7 linked regions of the Homo sapiens genome follow. The protein of the gene in region 1 purifies or fractionates together with the protein of each later gene. This does not show direct contact. Each region holds a gene or a part of one and is shown in the gene's direction. Other genes may lie near its edges. The genes, in order: LBH, RIOK2, ADD2, MAP9, ESF1, RBMXL1 and CCDC97.

Region 1 (4,145 bases):
TATTTTTAAATAAATTATTCTCATCAATTCTTATAATTTTTGTTTGGGCTGGTTTTGCGGGGACTGATGAAAATTATGAGGGTCTTCTCTCACGGCTTCCTTCAGGGTCCTACCCCTGTCGAACCTTCGCCATTAATTCTGTCATCCTTTTGCCTGAGATAAGCTATGCGTTTCCACTTTCAAGTACATATATACGGATTCAATACACTCACTGCCTTTCTTTTAAAAAGCTGATTCACTTCAAAGCCAATTTAATTTTGCTTAGTTTTTGATCTCCCCGCGCCCCCTTTCCTCAGCCCCTATACACAGGTAGGTGAGGGTTCTAAAGCCATTTTACAGGCGTGATTGAAGCGGAGGCCACAGAGCGGCAGCGCTGGGTCCCGAGTGAGACTCCCATCATGTGGCTCTGGGGGGCTGCGCAGCTTTGACTGCCTGGACAGACGCCCAGAGCTGCAATTCCTGGGCAGTGTGGGAGGCGTTCGGCTAAAGCTCTTTGTTTCTGCTGTCATGAGCGACTCCTCGGAGAAGACGTGGGAGTCAAGGATGGGGGGCGGCGTGCACACCGCCCGCCCACACCTTCTGCCCCCGCTGCAGACCGGGCGTATGTGTGTCTCCAATGGAAAAATCCTACCCAGGACGACACCACATCCTTGCTCCCACAAATAAAACCTTCCACGGAACTCAGGGCTGCAGACCAGCCCTTCGCAAGCCAACGCGCCCCGTGGGCACTCGGTCCCCCGGCTCCGCGTCTCTGCCACCTTCCCACCGCTTCTTCTTTAACCATGCTCTTGTTTCCCCTCGCTGATCGCAAGGCTGCGGGCGAGGATTCCAGAGAGAGGCCTAGTATGGGGAACAAACGCTTCAGAGGGGTCCGAGGTGGGCTGGGGACAGCCAGTGGATGGGAAGGAGGGCGCTGGCGCCGGGCGGCTGGGGTGGAGGAGTGGCGGGTGCCCTACCCCGGCGCAGAGCAGCCGCCGAGCTGTCATGTCCCGAGCGGCCCCCGCGCCCTCCTTGCGCCCACCTCCGCCGCGCTGGAGTTCGGGGTGTGCGTGGAGGGGGCTGTGAGCGGGAAGCGGCGCGGACGCGGAGTCCGGGCCGGTGCGAGTGAGCGCGTGTGCGCGTGGGAGAGCGGCGGGAGGGGGCCGGGCTCGCAGCCGCAGCGAACCACGGCCCCGGGAGCAGAGCCGAGCGCGCCCCCGAGCCGCCGCCCGCCGGAGCTGCGAGCGCTGAAGCCATTCATGATTTTGGTGACGTTATTCCAGGAGTGGGCGAGGGAGGGCGGGGCCTCTCGGGGCCAAGCCCCGCCCCCGCCCCTATAAATACGGCTTCCCGGGCTCTTTGTGGGGCTGAGTGCTCAGTGGAGAGCGGGGAGTTGTGTCCACCTTGCCGACGTCGCTAGCCGTGGGGCTGTCCTGGGAAGGCGGACGGCGAGCGCCCGGTGTCCGCACTCGGCCGCCTGCCGTGCCCGTCTGCGCCCGTGTCATCCTCACTCGGGACGCAGGGACCGTTTTTAAATCACAGGGGCGTGTGTCAGCCTGCCCTAGGACTTCATGTCTATATATTTCCCCATTCACTGGTGAGTACCCTGCGCCTGCGGCGGGCGTCTGTCTCGCGGCGGTGGCTGCGGGCCCGGGCGCCTGCTTCGTGCCGGCTCCGGGTGCGAGGGCAGCCGGCGGCGCGGGCGCTCAGCGCTAACCCGCCGCCCGAGCCCGTGCAGGAGTCAACGTCAAGGTTGCAAAGGTGGGGGTGGGGGGAGGGGGTGCTGAGAACATCCAGACAAAGGACGTGAACTCGGAGCCCTCACCTAAGTGACGGCCGGAGGGTTTGTATTGGTTGGCGGGGGAGCCAGGGGTCACGTGTGAATCCCCCCCAATGAAACCACCCTATGCGGAGAGCTGCAGGAGGCGCGCGCCCCACTTGGCGCAGGGGGGCTCCTGCTCTTCCCGGGCCCCTCCTCTTTTTCTTTTTGTTTGCATGCAAGTCTCAACGTCGAGGCCGGCAGCAGCGGGGCTGAGCTGGTGCGGCCGCAGGGTTTGCAGAGCTCCGGGGGGGTGGGGGGCGGGAAACGCTCTCCCCACACGTAACCCCACTAAAGCCACAAGCAGCAGGGCACGCGCTGCAGCCTCTCAACCCCTGCCCTCTCCACCGCCCCTAAAAACCGACGCACATTGGTGGGGGCCGGGACTGGGAGGAGCCGCCTTCGCCGTGCTGAAGGGGAAGGAGCCCGGGCCGGGCGCGGGGCGTCGGAGGTTTGCCCCGGACTGGGGATCGGAGCCGGGAGGGATGCAGAGAGAGGCAGGCCCCTGACTGCTGGGACTTCCTTGCTGGCAGTTTCTTCCTTCCTGCTCTGGGTTAGAGGAGAAGCGGCCGGGGGCGAGCGCCGGCAGCCCCGGAGCGCGCTCTCAGGTGCGGACGTGGGGAGCTCGGCCCCGAGTCTCCGGCAGGCGCTGAGCGAAGGGAAAACCGGCGCAAGCCGCGGCGGGGTCCGGCCTGGCCCAAGAAGCGGAAAGTTCATGCTTCTCGCTTCAACTTTTCGGGCCGGCGCCACAGCCCCGAGCGAGGAAGAGCCGCCCCTACGTCAGACTCTTCACCCTGCGTGCGCTCTTCTGGCTCCTTTCTTTGGAGGTCGCCAGCAGCCTTTCCAAGACCCGGGAGGAAACTGCCTTTGCAGGGCCCAGCTCCCGAACCTAAACTTGCCGCAAAGCCCCGCATCTTCTGTTAGTCTCCCTGCCCCCATCCGTCCCAGCCTGGCAGTGTTTAGAGAGGGGACTGAACTTCCCTCTCTCAACAGTTCAAGTTCCCCCACCCCGAGGCTTGTGTACCCTTCTTGTGGGTGCCCCTCCCTTGCCTCTCCCGTGGTGTGTGAGCAGCTAGGTGCCTTATTATAGGTGAAGCTTTGAAGGCTGTTGGAGGCTTTGTGCCTTTGGCTGCTCAAAATTTGCCAAGGTGGGTGTTTGGACCCATTAAGAATATTATGAGAAATTAAGGTTTAAGTTTATTTCATCGATTAGCACTTTGCAGCTTGCAATGCTTTTATGCAGACATTAGCCCTTAACCTAACTGTGAGGTATGCACTATTAGCATCAGAGTAACAGACAAACAGGACACTTGTGGCTCAGAGAAGTTACAGGACCTGTTCAAGATCACACAGTTCTTGAGGGGCAGAGCCTAGAACCTATTGCTTCTGTTTCTAAATCCAGTGTCATTTCTTATCTATGTAGTAACCATACAATTGAAGAGGCATCTGGTACCCCTGTTTCCTTAGATACTGTCCCTCAAAAGACTCCCCCATATTTTTGTTTTAAACCATGTGCACAGGCACGATGGTGGAAAGCATTGGGTGCTGTGTAGCAGGTACCTGTATTTGGTGCTTATGTTCAGCATTATGTGCACGGGATCCTGTATGTGCCCAGAGTTTGTGCAAGGATAAGGGAATATTCGTATCCTGCTTAGAGAGTACAAGGCACTTTCACATGTCAGCCATTGGTGGGCCAGCTTGGCCCCTCTGGAAATTTCCTTTGCAGTCAGAGTCGGGTATCCTTAAGGCTTTTAATCCAGGGGATGTTTTTCAAGCTGTGAGCATGCAGCTGCTGTGTCTGGGGCTAGAGAAAGGGGATGGATGGCAGATGTGAAACTTGCAGAAAAGCTGACCCCTTGGGGCTTTAAGTGGAACATTTTGCCAAAAGGAGCACCAGAGAGACAAATTTAGGAAAGCTGTATGATTGGACTTTGTTTCCCTCCAGTTGACCTGTTATTGTTATTGTGTATTAATAATATATAGAGTTCCCCTTTGGAAAGTTCATGTGAGGATTATTTTTATTCTTAGTTGGAGAAGTGAAGGGAGATGTGGTTGAATTGGTTTTAATATAGACAGATGGACTCAGCTACCTACTGTTTTGGTTTCTCTGGTTCTGTCATTTAAAGAAACATTCAGGGTCCCTCTGTGCCAGTGGGGACTAGAGTACAGGAGAGGAGGGAAGAGGTTTGCCAGAGAGGTCTGCAGACAATGGGCTTTGTCTGTTGCGGCTGAGCCCTGGGGCTGTGGGCTTGCAAGGCGCTTCCTCAGGGTGTGAGCTTGTTTTGCTGCAAGTTCTGTTTTGAACACCTCTCTTCCTGTCTCCAGACAGTCCCCTGATCCCACAGCA
Region 2 (3,988 bases), on another chromosome or scaffold:
GTTTTTTTAAAAACTTTTCGCCCAGGCGCGGTGGCTTATGCCTGTAATCCCAGCACTTTGGGAGACTGAGGGGGGCGGATCACCTGAGGCCAGGAGTTTGAAACCAGTCTGGTCAACAGGGCGAAACCCCATCTCTACTAAAAATAAAAATATTAGCAGGGCGTGGTGGTGTGAGCCTATAATCCCAGCTACTTAGGAGGCTGAGGGAGAAGAATCCCTTGAACCTAGAGGGCAGAGGTTGCAGTGAGCCAAGATCGCGCCCCTGTACTTCAGTCTGGGTGACAGAGCCGGGCTCTGTCTCAAAAATAAAAAAAAAATTCATTTCTATGCCTTCTTATGTAAGTACAGAAAGAAAAATTCCGTTTAAATGGAGATGTTCATTGGTTGAAGATGGTTAATCAAAGACATGCTGCATTCAAGTAAAAAGCAGACAAAGGCTTGAATATCGAGGAGTTGCAGAGCCAGTATGGGTAACTATTCTAAAATCCTTAAATCGCTCCTGGGCCCTCGAAGTCCTACCCGCGTAGGTCAGCCCGAACTATCAAAATCCCCACTTCCTCTGGAGGTAAGGACGTCCGCCGCGCTCTCCACGTGTCACCTTAAACTCCCACCCCAACCAGCGCAGGCGCACTTCGAAGCCTCCTAGACCAACCTAAGAGAAGTACTGAGCAAGCGCATGAGTTCCATTAACCACGCCCTCCGGAGCTGCCGGAGCAGGCGCAATTAGGAGTAGAGGGCGTGCTTGTGTGATTACAGTCCACTTTACCTTTAACAGATTTGGTTGTCTGGACTCTAGCTCAGGTTCTTTTACCCCTGTCTTGTTGGAAGTCACTTTGCCTAGAGTAGAAGTTGTTTGCGGGAAAAATTTGCTCCTCCCATTAAGTAACCACTTTGCTCTCTGAGGCGGAACGTGTCATTGAGGCAGCAAGTCCTGACAGATATGGAAAAAAAAAGGCACATTGTAGAGAATATCTACACTCCGCCAACTCAGTCACAACGCAAAAATTACACAAAAATAAAACGTTCACTTGTTACATACTATGTGTTTCATAAGACATACAAGTAGTTTTATTTTCCTATATCAATGAGAACAGCACTTCTAACTATTAACAAGGACCTATACTAAGACGCAGCGCGTGCGCGAGCCATCTGGCGCTGTAAAGCGCTTAGAGGCTGGAATAACGACCTGCCTTACGCTTTGCGGCTGTCGTCGGAGAGGCATCTGGGTTCGGACTGGGGCCGCCATGGGGAAAGTGAATGTGGCCAAGTTGCGTTACATGAGCCGAGATGACTTCAGGGTCTTGACCGCGGTAAGAAACCCGCCGTTCCTGTTCTCCCTTCCCCTTAACACTGTGTGACCTCTTCCTGTTCCTGCAAGTTTTCTGGGATCTGAGCAGGCACACTCTGGGACCCGGGACGTGGCAGAAGCTGGGAATGGAGAAGAGAGCATTCAGAAAGTCGGATTTTTAAAAAGGTTTTGTTTGGGAGCTTACCTTCCCCCAGATAGAGCAAAGGTCCCGTCTTCTAATAATTGTTTTCTTTTCTGCTGCTATTCGCTTTGCGCTGAAGAGAAACGCTTGCATCTCTGTGGCCTGGAAACTTCTCTGATCCTGAGCTTCCGACCAGCTGTGAAAGGTTTAAGCCCCCCCCCCCCCCCGAGATTTGATAATATTGACTTCCCTACTAACAGACTCAGTCGCATAGCAGTCTTTCTGATTCATTCAGTCAACACATATTTGTCGGTTTTTTAGTAGCAACATTAGGAGGTTCACTTGTTCAAACAGACAAGTGGAGAGAGAGACACAGATCATCAAGTAAACGAAAAATAGGATAATGGATAAATGCTATGAAAATGATAAAGGATAATGGCATAGAAAGTATATGTATCTGGTGGAGAGGAGGGGCACAAGTTATTGGCCTTTGGTAGACAATCAATAAATATTCACTAAATGAAAGAATGAATGGGGGAATAATAGGAGCTGTGTGAGAAAGAGACAGCCCAGTGAAGTCCTTGGAAAGAGTTGGAGGCAGAGGAAACAGCAGTAGTAAGTGCAAAGGCCTTGAGACAGAAAAGTCTTTGAAGAGAGGAAAGGCCAATGTAATGTGGCTGGAGCAAAGTGAGATGCACACTAATGGTTGGAGATGTAGCGGAAAAGGTGAGAAATTATGTACTACAGAGCCTTGGAGGTTTGGTAAAGAATGTGGGGGTAACCACTAAATGTTTTTAATCAGGGGAGTAACAAAATCTGATTTTATGGCCTCAGTCTTATGGCACAGAAATTAATATATAGATCAAGACATTTGTACATTTATTTAGGAGCCGTTATCTTTTGGTAAGGAGTGAACCCCATGATAAGGACTACCTATATTGTGTAATTATGTAATAGGATATGCGATGTGAGTCACACTGGTTCTTGCATTATGTTAAGGCTTCAAGTTTTGGATTTTTAAAATTAATCTTAAATAGCGCTTAAGTATTAAACTATCAAATGCAAAATCAGTGTGAAATTTGGAAGACAATGTTTACTTTGCCTCTCATGTAGATTCTTCTAATCAGCTGGACTTTCTCTATGAAAACCTACTATCACTTCGGAAAGATACCTTCCTTTCCTGCTTTCTCAGCACACTCATTCCTTAGTGTCTCTGACAGAAGTAGGGGTCAAAAGTAAGAGTGTTAGAGGACGGGGGAGGCAGAGACAAAGCATGGAAAATAAGTTAAATTTAAAAGTTAAGGTTTTGGTGAGACATCAAAATGATGCCAGATTTATCTTCCAAAACATTGGCGCTGCAATATTTAAATTATTTGTAAAGTTCACCAAGAAATGACTTAGTCATTAAATATGACATTCCGGTCTCAGTTGAATCTCACCAGTGTTGGTACCCTTTCTTGGGCCTCTCTTCCCTTTTACTTCTTTGGCTCCTCCTATATCAATAATCATTGTTTGACTAGCTGCCCTTAGCTTTCAATATGAACTTGCCCCAGAATTCTGCTCCCAAACATTCCTTTTCTTCCATTATCTCCTGCTCAGTGATAGCATCCACTTCACATCTTCAACTCTCACTTCTATAAAATAATTGACAATTTTTCCTTCTAATTATAACTTCATTCCTAAATATAGGCCCCTTTCCTATTTAATTTTCTCTCTTTCTTTTTTTTTTTTTTTTGAGACGGAGTCTTATTCTGTTGCCAGGCTGGAGTGCAGTGGCACAATCTCAGCTCACTGCAACCTTCACCTTCTGGGTTCAAGCGATTCTCCTGCCTCAGCCTCCCAAGTAGCTGGGACTATAGGCGCACACCACCACGCCCAGCTAATTTTTGTATTTTTAGTAGAGATGGGGTTTCACCATGTTGGCCAGAATGGTCTCGATCTCTTGACCTCGTGATCCACCCACCTTGGCCTCCCAAAGTGCTGGGATTACAGGTGTGAGCCACTGCACCTGGCCTCCAGTTTTCCTTTAAACATTTTTATTTGACTCTCAGTGCTCAAACCAAATTCAATTTTTTTCTACCCCCTTTCTCTTTTCCCAAGCTCTATAAAAAAAAAAAATAATAAAATCTTAAAACTTGCTTTTCCTCATCACTTCCAATTGTGGCTTTCCGTTCCCTTTACCCTTCCACATCTAATTGCCAAGCTCTCCCATAATACTTCCTAAAGATTTTTATTCCTTCCTTCCAGTACCACTACCACTTACCCTGTTCTGGTGGCTCTTTCCTCTGAGCTGGACTTCTGTCTTAGTTCTCCGGAGTACCCCCTCAGATTTTGCCATCTCTAAGCCAATTTGCATATTCCTGGTACATTAATGTCCTTAAAATAACCCTGTTCGTGTGTCTCCCACGCCTAAACATCTTCAAGAGCTTCCTGCTCTCATCAGGATAAAATATAAAAGTATTTGGTCTACATTTTAATGCCTTCTCTATCCTAGAAGTATCTTCCAGCCGCGTTTGCATGAATTCTATATGCTATCCCATCTGAGCTGCTACTGTACT
Region 3 (3,500 bases), about 41 Mb from region 1:
TTGCATTTTTAGTAGAGACGGGGTTTCGCCATGTTGGCCAGGCTGGTCTCAAATCCTTGGCCTCAAGCGATCCACCTGCCTCTGCCTACCAGAGTGCTGGGATTACAAGTGTGAGCCACTTTGCCCAACCAACAGTTCTTGATTCCGAGACCAGAAAGGAACTTTTTCCTAATGTGACATAGTGTTTGAAATGATGCCTTCGATCACCTCCTCATCAGACACAAGGACAAGTTTCATAGGGTTGTTTTTCACAATGGCCCTCAGCATGAGCTAATGATATCATGCCACAGGTCTCTCAGCCCCCTGGGGTTCTGAAGATATACGTATTTTGAAAGATCTGTGTATTCTCTGACATTAGTGGTTTTATTCCAGTGATAATCTTTTTTGCGGAATCTTGCTCTGTCACCCAGACTGTTTGAGTAGGGATCTTGCTCTGTTACCCAGGCTGGAATGCAGTGGCATGATCATAGTTCCCTGTAGCCGGGACCTCCTGGGCTCAAGCGATCCTCCCACCTCTCCCTCCTGAGTAGCTGTGACTACAGGCATGAGCCACTATGCCTGGCCTATTCCAGTGATAATCATAAATAATTAGCAGTAAAAATGTGTTCTGGATCATCTTGATGGCAAGGCTGAAACTGATGCTGGAGTCTGCGTTTGCCTTTGTATCTTTCCATTTGAGCCATGGGCAGGCCTGGTGGCTCCAGCCACAGCCTGGGTGAAGGGAAGGGGAGTTGGAATAGTGGAGAGAGTGAGTCTACACAGGACACACACAACTTGCCAACTCCAAAAGAACAGCTCCTGGCGACCACTGCTCTATTGGCAGGGATTGAAGATCTCACGCCAGTTCATCTTTGTATGGATCAAGTTTGCAGCAATTTATTAGCAGCAGATGTAGTAAAAACACAACAGAAAAGTTGCTGTTGTGGATTTTAACAATATTTGAATTAGATCTTCATTTAATGCATATTTAGTAACTCTCCAATAGGTACCTTACATCTAAGAAAATGAGATGGGGCCGGGCGCGGTGGCTCACGCCTGTAATTCCAGCACTTTGGGAGGCCGAGGCAGGTGGATCACCTGAGGTCAGGAGTTCGAGACCAGCATGACCAACATAGTGAAACCCCATCTCTACTAAAAATACAAAAATTAGCTGAGCATGGTGGTGGGCAACTGTAATCTCAGCTACTCGGGAGGCTGAGGCAGGAGAATCACTTGAATCCTGGAGGCAGAGGTTGCAGTGAGCCGAGATCACACCACTGCACTCCAGCCTGGGCAACAGAGCGAGACTCCAACTCAAAAAAAAAAAGAAAAGAAAATGAGATGGGTAATTTGTTCTGATGGTTAAGTGACACCAGACTGTCTGACTTCAAAAATTATTTTTCTACTTACTAGCTGTGAGAGTTTAGGCAAGTTATTCAACCTCTCTCCTGCTCAATTTCCTATAATAATATAGGAATAAATATATGGCATTGATTGCATGGTGATATTATAAGAATGAGTTGTTACATGTGAAAGACTTACCTATTGCAATAAATTAATTTTATTACTTTGATATTTTAAAGTGGATAGTTGTATTTGTACATTGTTTTGGCATTTTAATAATATAAAAGCTGTAAAGCATAGGTGTTTAGAACTGGTATTTATGAGTATACATATTTAAGTTACATTTTAATAAAAGTGACTTAGGTCAACCATGAGGTCATGAGAAATTTTTTCTGCCAAAAGGGATGTTTATATAGTTTAAGCATTTTGAACTATGTACAGGGACACACACAGATTCTTGGAATAGAAATTTGAATCTTTAGAAGAGATTGCAGCCACAATATTTGACTCCACATACATTGGCTGCTACAATTTTAGCCTGAAAGAATTTTAAAGCAATAATATGAAAAACTGCCTGTCTTCAATGACAACCACCACCAAATCTTCCAAACTCGAAGAGCACTCATGGAATGGCAGGCTTTTAGTAAAGATTTCATCCCGGTCTGTCTTCCAAGATAAACTACATAGGAAAGCTTTGCCAATGTTACTGAAAGAGATGAAGAGAAAGTGTATCCTCTGTGGAGTCTAAACTTCAGTTGTATAGATTTAAATGAGTTTATTGATTATGTTATTCAAATTTATTTTAAACTTTTCTTTGTACCTAAGTGATCTGTCAAAGAATACAAAAGATGTTAGTCTCAAATGATATTTTTGGCTGGGTGTGGTGGCTCACGCCTGTAATCCCAGCACTTTGGGAGGCCGAGGCAGGTGGATCACCTGAGGTCAGGAGTTCCAGACCAGCCTGGCCAACATGGTGAAACCTCGTCTCTACTAAAAATACAAAAATTAGCTGGGTGTGGTGGTGGGCGCCTCTAATCCCAGCTATTCCAGAGGCTGTGGCAGGAGAATTGCTTGAACCCGGGAGGCGGAGGTTGCAGTGAGCCGAGATCACACCATTGCACTCCAGCCTGGGCAACAAGAATGAAACTCCATCTCCAAAAAAAAAAAAAAGAAAATGAAATTTTTGACCGCTTTCCTTTTGCTATGTCCTTTAGCATGCCCTTTAAATCCATATAATATAGTTATATTTATATATTTATTTGATATATAATTATGTAATTATATATATAAACATGTATTTGTGTATATTTTATATGTTTTTACATAGTTATATTTGATGCTGTATTACTCAGGGCCCTGATTGCCCAGGACTGATGGGTTTTCTGGGATGAGGGATTTTCAGTGCTAAAGCTGGGACAGTGCCAGGCAAATGGGGATGACTGGTTATCCTCTGTGACACAAATGTTGTGACCCTTGACTCTCCATTGTGGGGTGAATCTTCCATATTTCCAGACCTGCTTTGTCTCATTGTATTTTTATTTTTGTCTTAAATTTTACTGTGTGATAAGAAATCTGGTCCTGCCTTCTTTCTGTTTCCATTTCCCTGGTGTGATGCTCATTCTCTTTCTTCTTAAGCTTTCTTCTTTTACGTCATTTTGATTTTTGTCTATTTTAAGCATCATAATTGGATTTTTAATCCAATTGTGACTCAATTTACATTTATTATATGTGATACAGTCACAGATCTTCTAAAATTTTATTTTACATTAAAAAAATTCCAAGCTATTTTTCCACCCCCTTTCTTAACTTAAATGTAGTGTAAGAGTCCCTTGTTCTTTAGATAAAAGGGAAATTTTCTGCCCATTTTTTTCTACTAGTCTTCATTAACATTAAAAAATATAGTTGTGTTGGCCAGGCGCGGTGGCTCACGCCTGTAATCCCAGCACTTCAGGAGGCCAGGGCGGGTAGATCGTGAGGTCAGGAGATCGGCCATCCTGGCTAATATGGTGAAACCCCGTCTGTACTAAAAATACAAAAAATTAGCCAGGCGTGGTGGCGGGCACCTGTAGTCCCAGCTACTCGGGAGGCTGAGGCAGGAGAATGGCATGAACCCGGGAGGCAGAGCTTGCAGTGAGCCGAGATTGCACCACTGCACTCCAGCCTGAGCAACAGAACGA
Region 4 (3,808 bases), on another chromosome or scaffold:
GACCTCTCTTACTCATTCCTGTGTCCCCCATAGTACCAAAAACAGTGCCTGCCAAAATAGATTAAAAGTGTTTATTGTATTAGCTGTTTAGAGCTGAAAAGATATTTACAAATTCCAGGGAAGTAAAAGGAAAAAAACTGAAAAAGGTACAGCTACTTTTGGGGATGTGAGATCATGGATGTGTATCTTATAGATTTCACATTATTTATTTACTTTCCATTATTTTCTTCTACATTATCATATTTAGTGGCTAACCATTATTACTTCTTAGGTTGTTGTGAGAACCGAGTTAATTAATGTAAACTATTTGACACATAATAAGGACTTAAATGTTCATTGTTGTCATTATTGATTTATTACCATGAGCCCTACATTTCCCCATTCATGAGTGTGCGAACATTAACATAGATAGGGTTGATAATGGTTATTTGACATTACACATTTTTAGGAAGAAGAAATTTCTGTCTTGCTGGCCAGTCCAGGCTGTAACACTCAAAAAAACAAAACAAAACAAAACAAAACAAAAAAACAGAAAGATGCCTTGTATTAGGGCCTTCCTAAAAAGAAAGCTAAGTAAGTATTAATTTCTTAGGATTGCTTCTGAGGTAGGATGAGGTGTTTGCATAGACCCAACAAGTCATTCACTTCAAATTTTTTTTGTCTTACTATGATAAATAACATATTATTTCCTGTTTACAGCAACCTGCACTGAAATTAACTAGTTGAATAAAATCACCTCTTCTAGCACAAATAAAGCTGAGTTCGGGGAGGTGGGTGAAAATACAGTACTGTTGTTTACTTCCTAAGATCCAAGGGAGAGAATCAAGCTTGGTAATATTCTCTTGAATATACATTTACCTATTTAAAAGGTATGATTTTCCCATATTTCCTTAGGAAGTATGTCATGTCAATATAGATATTTACTCATTAGGTTTACATTAATTTGTATTATAAGGGAATGTTTAATTCAAATTAAGGACATTAAAAGTATATAGACTTTCATATAAAAGTTCCGGTTTTATAAATTGCGTTGATCACTTAAAGAATGCAGAGATCTCAAAGTAAAGAAAACAAATTTTATGAATATTTTAAAACATTACTTAAAACAAGTTTCCTTAGAAAGCACATTTGTGGATAAATTTAAATATTAATACTAAATAATAAAGTAGTATACAGAATTTAAATTTCATAATAATGAAGAAAGTGGTAATGCTATTTAACTTAAAAGATGCAATATGGCATTTTAGATCAAGAGGTTAAAGTTTTCTTAATGAAAGAAAGTAACGATTTATGGGATAAAAATATTCCAGTGGTTTGTATTTGCTTCATACTTCAAAAGTGTTAGTCCATTTATTGTTTAAAGTTATATTGAAACTGATATTTTCACTGCTGCCAAAGCAGTACCTGACAGTAGATAGGTATCCACAGTCTTATGTTCCTTAGAGTTATAGAACTATGCCTCTGAAAGGGGTTTTAATACTTTAATAAACCTGGCCTAAACTGTTTTATTTCTAAGTTGAAGAAACTGATTGTCAAGTACTTTGACTTGTCCAATCTCATACAACTAACTATGGTACATCTAGAGTTAGATCTCAGTATCAGGGGTCCCAGTTGTATTCTGCTCACCATTCCACAATTTCGATATTGATAAAACTTTCACACTAACTTTTGAACTGTGGTTATTATTAATTTAGTTGATTCATGTCCTCTTATTTATCTCCTTACTCCTCCACTGCTGCCTTCATAACTGTCCACCAGATCAAAGCTATTTGGGTACCTACACTTTAAAGTGAGGGGAAATAATGAAGTTTCTTAAATCCTGTGTCATGGACTAAGATACAATAAAGAAAAGGAATTTCACAAAGTAGGGGAAATTACGTGTTAGTTATAATCATTCCCAAGAATAAACTAGTAAAAGAAACTTAGATTTCCCTAATTTAATCTTGACTCCGATTTTGATAGTGCTATATAAAAAGGTATTTAAACCCATATGCTTCCTTTTACATAAAAGAAAGATATCAACTTTCCTAGTTTGCATTTACACTGGCTAATAGGATAATAAAATGCTGTGTAAATGTTAAACTGGAAGTTTCTCTGAGTTATTTTTACTTTAAAATTTCATGTGATTATGCCATTTTGAATATGTATATTACATGTAATTGTATAATGTTAACTCGGGTAGGCAAAATTCTTGGTATTAAATTTAGGATGTTTTAAAAATTATTAAGAAGATATTAATGTCTGCTTTTTGATAGCATATATTTTCATGTAATGTTTAGTGTATTAAAATCAACCATTCAAGATTTATTTTATTGGGTGACACTATTGACTGTGTTCCAAAATGCCCATAGTGTTAGGAAATGTGGTGTGAGTTTTATTTGTGGGCTAAGGATAAAATAATCATATGCTAATATACCTTTTATTATAAATGACTAAAAATTTGGATATAAAACTGATGTTTTACTACACAAATTACAGAGAGAGATAATATAATTATATAATTATTAAATAATTAGAAAATGCAAATAAGCAAAAGTCACCCATGTTCCCAGTTCTCATCTCCTGAAGATAGTTATAACTAACATATTATTTTGTACTCTTCCTGTTAATTAGTTTCTAGTGTACTTTCTCCTGTAGCTGAAATTAAGCTGAGAAAAAAGGAAGAGATAGTTCCTCCCTCCTCTTTCTCTCTCCCACTCTGTCTCTCTCCTGTGCTATCTGTGTGTATATACAAATATGTATGCATATATATATAATGATGTACATAATATATATAAAATACAAATACTAATGTGCATATTTTCAAACATACACATATTTTTTATTATTTGAAATAAGAATGAGTCAGACTACATATTTGGTAGCCAGATTTTTTTCACTCAGTGATATATCATGAACATATTTCCATGCTAATATAATTTTCTAATAATTTTAGATGCTGTAACTACAATTTCATTGTTAATGGGCAATTTGTTGCTTTACAAATGGTAAATTATATGATAAATAATATGATCATTATTCTTGTAGCCAATATCATTATTAGAAATGATGGACCGCATTAAAGCTATAAAATTAAATAAGAATTTATAAATGTAAGGAGTTATTCAGACATCTTGTATCTAGTATTACAATATCAGAAAACTCAGCAGGTTATATGACATATACACTTTGAGATAGTCACTCAGAGGTTTTCACATACAGGATTAACCTTGCTGCAGTGCGTGTGCAAGATTAAAAAAGATGTCACGGGTCACTTTGTAATGTCATATCGTTGCTGTTGATAAATAAAGGAAATGTTATAAATAAAACTAGATGCCTTTTTATGTTTCCAGAACTATAAGACATAGAAGGTGAGTTGTTTAATGGGTATAGAATTTCAGTTTTTGCAGGATGAAGAGAGTTCTGGAGAGCACTTGCACGTCAGTGAGAATGTATGTAACACTACTGAACCCTACACTTAAAAATGGTTAAGATGGTAAATTTTACATATATTTGCCCACAGTTTCGAAACCACAAAGCAATAATAATAATGCTTACTTACTTGCTCATATAAGAGAGATATAGAGAAGACTTCTCCCCTGATTATAGAATGTCTTTTGTTTGGTCTGACTGGACCAACTTGCTCATCTCAGATGAGTCATCATTGATTCAATTACAGTTGCCAGGAGAATGTCAGATGCTGAAGGACTTAAACCTGGACTGAATACTGAGTAAGAAAGTAACAGTTCAAGTAAATCTCCTAGTAACTCTTCATTTCAGATTTTGTTCTTGAACCCACTTTATTTTTGACATAAGCTTTAGGGTTCTT
Region 5 (3,500 bases), on another chromosome or scaffold:
GACTGTGATTCTCCGGAAACAGCTAGTAAAATTTATGAGGATTGTGATGGCCTGGAATTTGAAAGTAGTTGTTCTTTCATAGATCTAAGGTAATCCAGTGTATGTATTACCAATTTAATCTTTTAGTACAACATGATTATAAGAAGTAAAATATTTGAACTGGTAGTGATCTCTGTTTTATATTCTAAAATGATTTTTTTGCTTTTCGGTTAACTCTATCCCATGGAACATCACTCCTAAGAAAGAAAACAAACAAGACAGTGCTAAAGTATTATGTATGAATCATCCCCACATCTTTGTCCTTTCAGACATATTGGCTCTGTTTTTAAGATGGTGTACCTTACACAATAATATTTCCTTGCAACTGCTTTTAGAGCTAGGAACCAGATGAAGTTAACTTTTAAAAATGCATGGAGGAAGGGGCAGAGGAATTTGAAAACAGATTGTTATCTCTAGATCCATGCTATCCAGTATAGTAGCCACTAGTCATATTTGGTTATTTTAGTTAAAATTTATAAGTCAGTTGCGTAGTCATATTTCAAATAATTGTTCCATTTTGGACAGAGCAGATATAGAACATTGCCCTTGTCACAGAAAGTTCTGTTGGACAACACTGCTCTAAATGTAAATGGCTAAATGTACAATTAGGAAATTGTAAGACTCAACCTTAAGCTTTCCCTTGTTTTCAGTGACACCTCATGTATATGATACTTTGTATTCACAATGCTTACCCATTAATAATTATATTTGATCTTCAAAATACAATATAGCCAGCTGGGCATAGTAGCTCACGCCTATAATCCCAGCACTTTGGGAGGCCTAGGCAGGAAGATCGCTTGAACCCAGGAGTTCAAGACCAGCCTGGGCAACATAGTGAGACCCTGTCTCTACAAAAAATTTTAAAAGTAAAAATTAGCCAGGCATGTTGGCGCACACCTGTAGAGGATCGCTTGAGCCCAGGCCGTTGAGACTTCAGTGAGCCATGATTATGCCATGGACCTCCAACCTGGGTGATGGAGCAAGACCCTCTCTGTAAAAACAACAACAAAATCATGTAGTCAATGACTGCACTATCAGAAGTCTGGATCTTTTTGAAACGTGAGGGACCCACATGTGCTTGCACCTGACTCATTAACTGACTCCTAATGCACGATTTCTATCTATACAGCATTCTTTTAAATTTAGTGGAATTACAGAGTTATAGCTTATGAATTTCAGAAATTTATACAAAGATGAATTCATTCAGAAATATACAAAGGTTATGTCTAACATTGTCTCTTAAACGTGTGTCTTTTAGAAAGTTTGTGTATGTATAAACTACAACTAATTAGATGAGAATCTAAACTGTGGTTATCACTGCAGCGTATTTTAAATAAATTTTTTTTCTTTACTTCTTAGGTTTATACCAGATGATATTACTTTTGATGATGAGCCTAAGGATGTAGCCTCAGAAGTGAATTTAACAGCATATAAACCAAAATATTTCACTTCTGCTGCAATGGGAACATCAACGGTATTTCTTTACTTTAAAAAATATGTAGCTGGACTCTATTGCTTTATGAAGAGATTTTGTATATTACTTATAGCATCTTTAAAAATGGAAAGTATTAATTTTTTTGTTATTATTTTTTCTTGAGACAGAGTCTCGCTCTCTCACCCAGGCTGGAGTGCAGTGGTATGATCTCAGTTCACTGTAACCTCTGCCTCACAGGTTGAAGCGATTCTCGTGCCTCAGCTGCCCAAGTAGCTGGGATTACAGGTGTGTACCACTACACCTGGCTAATTTTTGTATTTTTACTAGGGACAGTGTTTCGCTATGTTGACCAGGCTGGTCTTGAACTCCTGACCTCAAGTGAGGCCGCCTTGGCTTCCCAAAGTGCTGGGATTACAGGTTTCGTGAGCCACTGCTCCCAGCCTCAAAGTATTCAAAATTTTTAATGCATGGGTACAGAGAGAAATGAGACACAAGCGTGTCTGCCTCTACCATATCTGTGAACCTGTTTTCAGATTCTTGTTACGCATTTAAGCCTGTGTCAGTTATCTGCTGATGTTTCTTTTTTCTCTTCTGTCTTTCCTGTACACTCTTCTGTCTCTCCTATACACTCTTCTGTCTTTCCTATACACTCTAATAAATCAGTTATTAATATCCTAAGGAATAAGGGGAAGTGGATAATAAATTACCTCCCCGCACAGTTAAATGAAACTAGGGAAAATTTAAAATAAGAGTATCTCCTATACACTCTAATACATCAGTTATTAATATCCTAGGGAATAAGGGGAAGTGGATAATGAATTACCTCCCAGCACAGTTAAACAAAACTAGTGAAAATTTAAAATAGGAGTACCTTTTTCTGCAGATGATTCAAAACTGTAAAAAGAATTGATATGGAATAATTAAGGTATAATAGATGTCACATTAATGCTTAGTAACAAATAGCCAAAAGGTTTTTGTCTATTGAAATAGTTTATTACTTAGGTGACTACCTTCTCCCTTTTCCTTTCTTTCTTTTTTTTTTTTTTTTGAGACTAGAGTCTTGCTCTGTCGCCCAGGCTGGAGTGCAGTGGCGCGATCTCTGCTCACTGCAACCTCTGCCTTCTGGGTTCAAGTGATTCTTCTGCCACAGCCTCCCCGGTAGCTGGGATTACAGGTGTGTGCCACCACACCCAGCTAATTTTTGTATTTTTAGTAGAGACTGGGTTTCACCATGTTGGCCAGGCTGGTCTTGAACTCCTGAGCTCAGATGATCCGCCCCCCTCTGCCTCCCAAAGTGCTGGTATTATAGGTGTGAGCCACTGCGCCTGGCCCCTTCTCCCTTTTCTTTTTTTTTGCTTTTTTTGGAGACTGAGTCTCACTCTGTCGCCTAGGCTGGAGTACGGTGGTGCAATCCTGGCTCACTGCAACCTCTGCCTCCCAGGTTCAAGTGATTCTCCTGCCTCAGCCTCCTGAGTAGCTGGGATTACAGGGGCACGCCACCATGCCCAGCTAATTTTGTATATTTAGTACAGACGGGGTTTCACCATGTTAGTCAGGCCGATCTCGAACTCCCAACCTCTGGTGATCCACCCGCCTTGGCCTCCCTTCTCCTTTTTCTTTCTCCCAATAACCTTTCTGTCCACAGCTGTACTCTGCAGTAGCCACACTAGCTTCCCTCTGCTTTTCCTGTGTGATAAATCACCGTGCTTCTCTGAGGAGGGACTGGTAGCAGAGAGAGTAGCTGTATCTGCCACCTGCTATGCCGTGGTGGGCACTGTATGGCATTGATTAGTTACTGGGTGTAGTAAAACTCTACCATTACATAGTAAGCAAAGTCTAAAAAATTCAGTCACATGAAATTAAAGTCATGTTATTTTCAGAACCAACATAATGATCAGGGCCAGCCTGTCCAGCCAGCCAGTCTAAAGTTCCTGGGTCCTGGCTGTATCATCAACATCTGTCCTAGTTCCAACAGTGTTTTGGTGGTTATCAGCTCAGGCTTAATTGTCAGAATAGGGATCATTTC
Region 6 (3,500 bases), on another chromosome or scaffold:
GGCTCACTGCAGCCTCCGCCTCTCGGGTTCAAGCAATTCTCCTGCCTCAGCCTCCTGAGTAGCTGGGACTATAGGTGCCCGCCACCACTCCCGGCCAATATTTGTATTTTTTGTAGAGACGGGGTTTTGCCATGTTGGCCAGGCTGGTCTCAAACTACTGGGCTCAAGTGATCCACCCTCCTCAGCCTCCCAAAGTGCTGAGATTACAGGCATGAGTCACTGCGTCCAGCCCAACCCTCTCTTTTGATGTGAAAGTATCACCTTTTGTACATTTAGTCCATACCCAATATCTCTTTGCCTCCTTTAGTGCAAAGTTACTCATCCTTACTTGTATCTAAGAGAATCTTTCCTACTTTCTGAGTGGGCACTAGTTTTGGAGTATATATATTGTATGCCATGAACTATATTTTTCTGCTTATGGCTTTGCCTCATTTAATTGCCATAGCACTTACATGGGGCAGGTATTCATTTTCCTGCTTAGCAAATAAGGAAACTGAATTTCAGAGATGTCAGGTAACCTGCCTACTTCACACACTAGGAGTTTTGATGTTTAATTTTGAACTAAGATCTATCTGGCTTGAAAGCTCTTTGCATTAAACAACCTTGAACAATATACTTGGAACGTAGGTGTGTTTTTGGCACAGAACATGGCATGTGTGTGAGGGATTGAACACAGACTTGCCCAGATTCAAACTTACCAATCTTCTGTTTCATGTGCCCAGAAGAAACAGCCTGTTTCTCAGCCTCAAACCCAAACTTCTAGTTGTCTTGATTGGTTCAGCCTGACTGTCCAACTCTGATTTATAGCTGTGATTGGGGGAGCTGAGATTACACAGTGTAGGCAGGCAGAAGGGCCCCAGGCCTATTGATATGGGTGAGGACAATACTCACGCACTCCCTTCACTTACTCACTCTTCCAAGGTCTTGGCTTGAACCCAATTTTTTTTGAGAGAATAAACCAGGCTTTTTGTTCTCCACTTGGCCTGACTCCATTTCTGGCATTCCAGCCATGTATTTAGCTGTTATCAGCTTTCAGATTTAGAGAAAGCCTTGTTTCCAATAAGCTTGTTTCTCTGAAGTAATTGTTAAAATATAATTTTCAGAAAAAGGTTAAATCATGACTCATACAAATATAAAAATGAACATGTGCTAAAGATTTTTATTTCACTCATGTGATATGAAGTAACCAGACAGAAGTTATAACCAGTACATATGGAAAGTCAAAAAGCACAAATTCATATGTAGTAAAGGAATTGGATTGCAAATGAAGGCAAAACTGTTTTTTCTACAGGGTGGAGGGAAGATAATCAAAATGCTAGAACCAGAATTTGCATGCCTGTCACTTAGCTTCAATTTACAAAAGCCCAGAATAACTCAAAGGCAAATTCTAGCCCTGCAAATATCAGCCCTAAAGCTGTGCTGTGGCCAGTGCATAGTTTTCTATTGAAGTACAATTTTTTCCCCAAATACATTATCTCTCAGAGGGAGTCCAAATTGCTTCCCTTTCACTCAGCAGATCTGTTCAGTCAACAGATGTTAAATAGCTACAGCGTATCAGGCACAAATAATTCTTTATAAAATAAAGTAACAAACTATATGTTGTTTCAAAGTTCCAGTTAAGGCCAGCCGTGGTAGCTCACCCTTATAATCCCAACACTGGGAGGCCGAGGCAGGCGGATCACTTGGGCTAGGAGTTCCATACCAGCATGGCCAACATGGTGAAACCCTGCTCTACTAAAATACAAAAATTAGCCAGGTGTGGTGGCGCATGCCGGTAATCCAAGCTACTCAGGTGGCTGAGGCACAAGAATGGCTTGAGCCTGGGAGGCAGAGGTTGCAGTGAGCCAAGATTGCGCCGCTGCACTCCAGCCTGGGCAACACTGTGAGACTCCTGTCTACAAAAAAAAAAAAAAAAAAAAAAAAAAGCAACAAAAAAAGGGCTCCTGTTAATTATACACACTTTTGAGCTTAATATAATTGCATTTTTTATGTATCTTTAAGCATCTTTCCCTGCTTTACATTTCCACTTCTGAGTTTTACTTTCATTTCTTCCACCATTACAGGAACATTCTGTTGTTTTCCTCTGCCATCTAGTGGCAAAAGAAAGTAATTTTCCTGGTTTTTTGAATGGATAGCCATACCTTAAAAAGCATCCAGATTGCGCAGTAGTGCTAGCGGCTTCGCGGTTCAGTCCTCCTAACTGACAGCCGCCACTGGTGCTGAGCTGCTAGGAAGCCCCTGTCGGCGAGCTTGTTGGAGCTTGAACCCACTGTCACCCCTCCGACTCACCGGCAAAAAAAAAAATGGTTGAAGCAGATCGCCCAGGAAAGCTCTTCATTGGTGGGCTTAATACGGAAACAAATGAGAAAGCTCTTGAAACAGTATTTGGCAAATATGGACGAATAGTGGAAGTACTCTTGATAAAAGACCGTGAAACCAACAAATCAAGAGGATTTGCTTTTGTCACCTTTGAAAGCCCAGCAGACGCTAAGGATGCAGCCAGAGACATGAATGGAAAGTCATTAGATGGAAAAGCCATCAAGGTGGAACAAGCCACCAAACCATCATTTGAAAGAGGTAGACATGGACCGCCCCCACCTCCAAGAAGTAGAGGTCCTCCAAGAGGTTTTGGAGCTGGAAGAGGAGGAAGTGGAGGAACCAGGGGACCTCCTTCACGAGGAGGACACATGGATGATGGTGGATATTCCATGAATTTTAACATGAGTTCTTCCAGGGGACCACTCCCAGTAAAAAGAGGACCACCACCAAGAAGTGGGGGTCCTTCTCCTAAGAGATCTGCACCTTCAGGACTAGTTCGCAGCAGCAGTGGAATGGGAGGAAGAGCTCCTCTATCACGTGGAAGAGATAGTTATGGAGGTCCACCTCGAAGGGAACCGCTCCCCTCTCGTAGAGATGTTTATTTGTCCCCAAGAGATGATGGGTATTCTACTAAAGACAGCTATTCAAGCAGAGATTACCCAAGTTCTCGTGATACAAGAGATTATGCACCACCACCACGAGATTATACTTACCGTGATTATGGTCATTCCAGTTCACGTGATGACTATCCATCAAGAGGCTATGGCGATAGAGATGGATATGGTCGTGATCGTGACTATTCAGATCATCCAAGTGGAGGTTCCTACAGAGATTCATATGAGAGTTATGGTAACTCACGTAGTGCTCCACTTACACGAGGGCCCCCGCCATCTTATGGTGGAAGCAGTCGCTATGATGATTATAGCAGCTCACGTGATGGATATGGTGGAAGTCGAGACAGTTACTCAAGCAGCCGAAGTGATCTCTACTCAAGTTGTGACAGGGTTGGCAGACAAGAAAGAGGGCTTCCCCCTTCTGTAGAAAGGGGGTACCCTTCTTCACGTGATTCCTACAGCAGTTCAAGCCGCGGAGCACCAAGAGGTGCTGGCCCTGGAGGAAGCCGATCTGATAGAGGGGGAGGCAGAAGCAGATACTAGAAACAAACAAAACTTTGGACCAAA
Region 7 (3,500 bases), on another chromosome or scaffold:
TGTGCAGTGCTTTTTCCTGGACCCTCTTGTCATCCCTCTCCCACTCCCCTGTGCCCTCCCCAGTCCCTACCTCTCATTTCTCTTGGCTTTGGTTCTTGTCTTGATTCTGATGACACCCACAGCTCTGTCTCCAGCCCAACATTTCTCTCCTGAGGAGTCTGGAGGCCCGTGTAGCAGCAGTCGGACCATTCCCCTGGATGCCTCCCTTACTTCCAGCACGTCAGCCCTGTGGCTCCTCCACTCAGCCTCCTGACATCTTTCTGATTCGCTCACTCATGATCCTGTTCCTTCCTCCACAGCCCCTGCCCTTGTCCAGCTCAGTCTTCAGCTGCATCAGTGATTTAAATCCTCCCTGATACACACAACACATGTATGTCACCTGTGACTTCTTTCCTCCCCAACCCAGCCACGCTGCTTAAAGTTGTCTCTATATTCTGTTTTCACGTATTTCCTGCTTGCCGCAGGCTTGCTCCCTCCACTCTTGGGAAACAAGTCTCACCAAGGTTTGCCCAGCGCTCCGCTTTCCTGTTTTCTTTCCATTTTTTTGAGACAGAGTCTTCACTCTGTCACCCAGGCTGGAGTGCAATGGCTGATCTCGGCTCACTGCAACCTCTGCCTCATGGGTTCAAGCGATTCTTGTGCCTCTGCTTCCTGAGTAGCAGGGATTACAGGTGCCCACCACCATGCCCAGCTGATTTTTGTATTTTTAATAGAGAGAGGGTTTCACCATGTTGGCCAGGCTGGTCTTGAATTTGTGGCCTCAAGTGATCTGCCCACCTCGGCCTCCCAAAGTGCTGGATTACAGGCATGAGCCATGGTGCCCAGCCAGCTTTCCTGTTTTCTTTGCCCATATTATTGTTGATCCTGACTGTCTCCCACATCAGACTGGGTGCTCCCTGAGGGCAGGAGCTGGACTGGATTCATCCTATGGATCCTCAGCATTGCCTGACTTAGGGCCTCTCAGAGATTTAGTGTTTTTTTTTCTTTTTTTTTTTTTAGAGTTTTGCTCTTGTTGCCCAGACTGGAGTGCAATGGCACGATCTTGGCTCACCGCAACCTCTGCCTCCCAGGTTCAAGCTATTCTCCTGCCTCAGCCTCCCGAGTAGCTGGGATTACAGGCATGTGCCACAATGGCTGATTTTGTATTTTTAGTAGAGACGGGGTTTCTCCCAGTTGGTCAGGCTGGTCTTGAAATCCCGACCTCAGGTGATCCACCTGCCACAGCCTCCCAAAGTGCTGGGATTACAGGCGCAAGCCACCGCGCCCGGCCTAAGATTTAGAGTTATTAAAGAGTGGTTGGGTGAACGCATGAATGCATGAGAGAGTGAATGAATGAGTAAACAAATTAGCAAATGTATTAACGATTTAAAGAATTGAGTGGATCAATAAGTCAGGCCTCAGGGCCTTTGCAGTAGTTGTTGCCTCTGCCTGGAATTCTCTTTTCCAAGAGACCTCATGGCTTAATCCCTCACCACCTGAGGTCTCTAATCAAATGTCACTTTTTTGGCAAAGCCTTCTCTGAGCCTTCCATTTAAAATTGCAGCCTTGGCCAGGCATGGTGGTTTACACTGTAATCTCAGCACTTTGGAAGCCTGAGGCAGGAGGATCACTTGAGGCCAGGAGTTCAAGACCAGCCTGGGCAACACAGCAAGACCCTGTCTCTACCAAAAAAAATTAAAATTAGGCCGGGTCCAGTGGTGCACGCCTGTAATTCCAGCACTTTGGAAGATCGAGGTGGGAGGATTGCCTGAGCTCAAGAGATTGAGACCACCCTGGGCAACCTAGTGAGACCTTGTCTTTACTGAAACTTTTTTTTTTTTTTTTTAATTTAAAGATTGGCAGGGTGCAGGCCAGGCGCAGTGGCTCACGCCTGTAATCCCAGCACTTTGGGAGGCCGAGGCGGGTGGATCACGAGGTCAGGAGTTCGAGACCAGCACAGCCAAGATGGTGAAACCCTGTCTGTACTAAAAATACAAAAATTAGCCGGGCATGGTGGCAGGTACCTGTAATCCCAGCTGCTCGGGAGGCTGAGGCAGAGAATTGCTTGAACCTGAGGCGGAGGTTGCAGTGAATCAAGATTGCTCCACTGCACTCCAGCCTGGGCGAAAGAGCGAGACTCCGTCTCAAAAAAAAAAAAAAAAAAAAAAAGATTGGCAGGGTGCAGTGGCACACACCTGTAATCCCAGCACTTTGGGAGGCCGAAGGGGAGTGGATCACCTGAGGTCAGGAGTTGGAGACCAGCCTAGCCAACATAGCGAAACCCTGTCTCTACTAAAAATACAAAAATTAACCAGGCATTTGGCTTGTACCTGTAATCCCAGCTAGTTGGGAGGCTGAGGCACCAACCACAATAACTTGAACCCAGGAGGCGGCAGTTGCAGTGGGCAGATCTCACGCCATTGCACTCCAGCCTGGGCAACAAGAGCAAAACTCCATCTCAAAAAAAAAAAAGAAAAAAAAATTTAAAGATTAACTGAGTATGGTTGTGCATGCCTGTAGTCCTGGCTGCTCAGGAGGCTGAGGTGGGAGGATTGCTTGAGCCCAGGAGTTCAGGGTTACAGTGAACCATGGTTGTGCCATTGCACTCCAGCCTGGCAATGGAGCAAGGCCTTATCTCTTAAAAAATAAAAATAAAAATAGGCCAGTCACAGTGGCTTACACCTTTAATGCCCAGCACTTTGGGAGGCCAAGGCAGGAGGATTGCTGGAGCCCTGGAGTTCGAGACCAGCCTGAGTAACATGTCAATACCCTGTCTCTACAAAAAATTTAAAAATTACACAGGCATGGTGGTATATGCCTGTGGTCCTAGCTACACGGGAGGCTGAGATGGGAGGATCGCTCAAGCCCAGGCGGTCAAGGCTGCAGTGAGCTGTGATTGCGCCCTGCACTCCAGCCTGGGTGACCGAGCAAGACCCTGTCTCGAAAATAAAATAAAATTGCAGCCTCCTCCACCTCTTCCCTCCTCCTTCCCTGTTTATTTTTCCGCATAACTCCAGGAAACACCTAACACATTATGTTTTCGGTAATTATGTTGCTAATTGTTTGTGTCCCCTACTGAAATGTCAACTTTTGCTCACTGTGGTTTCTCTAGTGCCCAGAACAGTGCCCAGAATATAGTCAGTGCCCAGTAAATGTGAGCTGAGTGAGTGACTAAGCCCCCAGTCCCTTCCCACACTCCCATCTCTGAACTAACCAATCTCTCCTTTCCTCAGGCTGCATAGAGCCTGGACCTGGGCACTGGGGTGAGCTGAGCCGGACACCAGTCCCATCTAAACCCCAGGACAAAGTGGAAGCAGCTGAGGCAACACCAGTGGCCCTGGACAGTGACACCTCCGGGGCTGAAAATGCAGCAGTGAGTGCTATGCTGCACGCTGTAGCCGCCAGCCGCCTGCCTGTTTGCAGCCAGCAGCAGGGTGAACCCGACTTGACAGAGCATGAGAAAGTGGCCATCCTGGCCCAGCTGTACCACGAGAAGCCACTGGTGTTCCTGGAGCGCTTCC

Evidence for each region.
Region 2: the proteins of LBH (region 1) and RIOK2 purify together in Homo sapiens (affinity purification with mass spectrometry; one large-scale study listed by BioGRID and IntAct). This does not show direct contact.
Region 3: the proteins of LBH (region 1) and ADD2 purify together in Homo sapiens (affinity purification with mass spectrometry; one large-scale study listed by BioGRID and IntAct). This does not show direct contact.
Region 4: the proteins of LBH (region 1) and MAP9 purify together in Homo sapiens (affinity purification with mass spectrometry; one large-scale study listed by BioGRID and IntAct). This does not show direct contact.
Region 5: the proteins of LBH (region 1) and ESF1 purify together in Homo sapiens (affinity purification with mass spectrometry; one large-scale study listed by BioGRID and IntAct). This does not show direct contact.
Region 6: the proteins of LBH (region 1) and RBMXL1 purify together in Homo sapiens (affinity purification with mass spectrometry; one large-scale study listed by BioGRID and IntAct). This does not show direct contact.
Region 7: the proteins of LBH (region 1) and CCDC97 purify together in Homo sapiens (affinity purification with mass spectrometry; one large-scale study listed by BioGRID and IntAct). This does not show direct contact.

The regions. Positions count from the first base shown.
Region 1 is NC_000002.12:30,230,189-30,234,333, forward strand, and holds the start of LBH (protein LBH), read left to right. Parts: upstream 1-1,345; 5' UTR 1,346-1,550; coding exon 1,551-1,576; intron 1,577-4,145. UniProt on the Homo sapiens protein: Transcriptional activator which may act in mitogen-activated protein kinase signaling pathway.
Region 2 is NC_000005.10:97,180,448-97,184,435, reverse strand, and holds the start of RIOK2 (serine/threonine-protein kinase RIO2), read left to right. Parts: upstream 1-1,188; 5' UTR 1,189-1,244; coding exon 1,245-1,310; intron 1,311-3,988. UniProt on the Homo sapiens protein: Serine/threonine-protein kinase involved in the final steps of cytoplasmic maturation of the 40S ribosomal subunit. Involved in export of the 40S pre-ribosome particles (pre-40S) from the nucleus to the cytoplasm.
Region 3 is NC_000002.12:70,761,701-70,765,200, reverse strand, and holds part of ADD2 (beta-adducin), read left to right. Parts: intron 1-3,500. UniProt on the Homo sapiens protein: Membrane-cytoskeleton-associated protein that promotes the assembly of the spectrin-actin network. Binds to the erythrocyte membrane receptor SLC2A1/GLUT1 and may therefore provide a link between the spectrin cytoskeleton to the plasma membrane.
Region 4 is NC_000004.12:155,342,158-155,345,965, reverse strand, and holds the end of MAP9 (microtubule-associated protein 9), read left to right. Parts: 3' UTR 1-3,308; downstream 3,309-3,808. UniProt on the Homo sapiens protein: Involved in organization of the bipolar mitotic spindle. Required for bipolar spindle assembly, mitosis progression and cytokinesis. May act by stabilizing interphase microtubules.
Region 5 is NC_000020.11:13,767,920-13,771,419, reverse strand, and holds part of ESF1 (ESF1 homolog), read left to right. Parts: coding exon 1-89; intron 90-1,398; coding exon 1,399-1,513; intron 1,514-3,500. UniProt on the Homo sapiens protein: May constitute a novel regulatory system for basal transcription. Negatively regulates ABT1.
Region 6 is NC_000001.11:88,982,630-88,986,129, reverse strand, and holds part of RBMXL1 (RNA binding motif protein, X-linked-like-1), read left to right. Parts: intron 1-2,063; 5' UTR 2,064-2,303; coding exon 2,304-3,476; 3' UTR 3,477-3,500.
Region 7 is NC_000019.10:41,313,172-41,316,671, forward strand, and holds part of CCDC97 (coiled-coil domain-containing protein 97), read left to right. Parts: intron 1-3,212; coding exon 3,213-3,500. UniProt on the Homo sapiens protein: May play a role pre-mRNA splicing through the association with the splicing factor SF3B complex which is involved in branch-site recognition.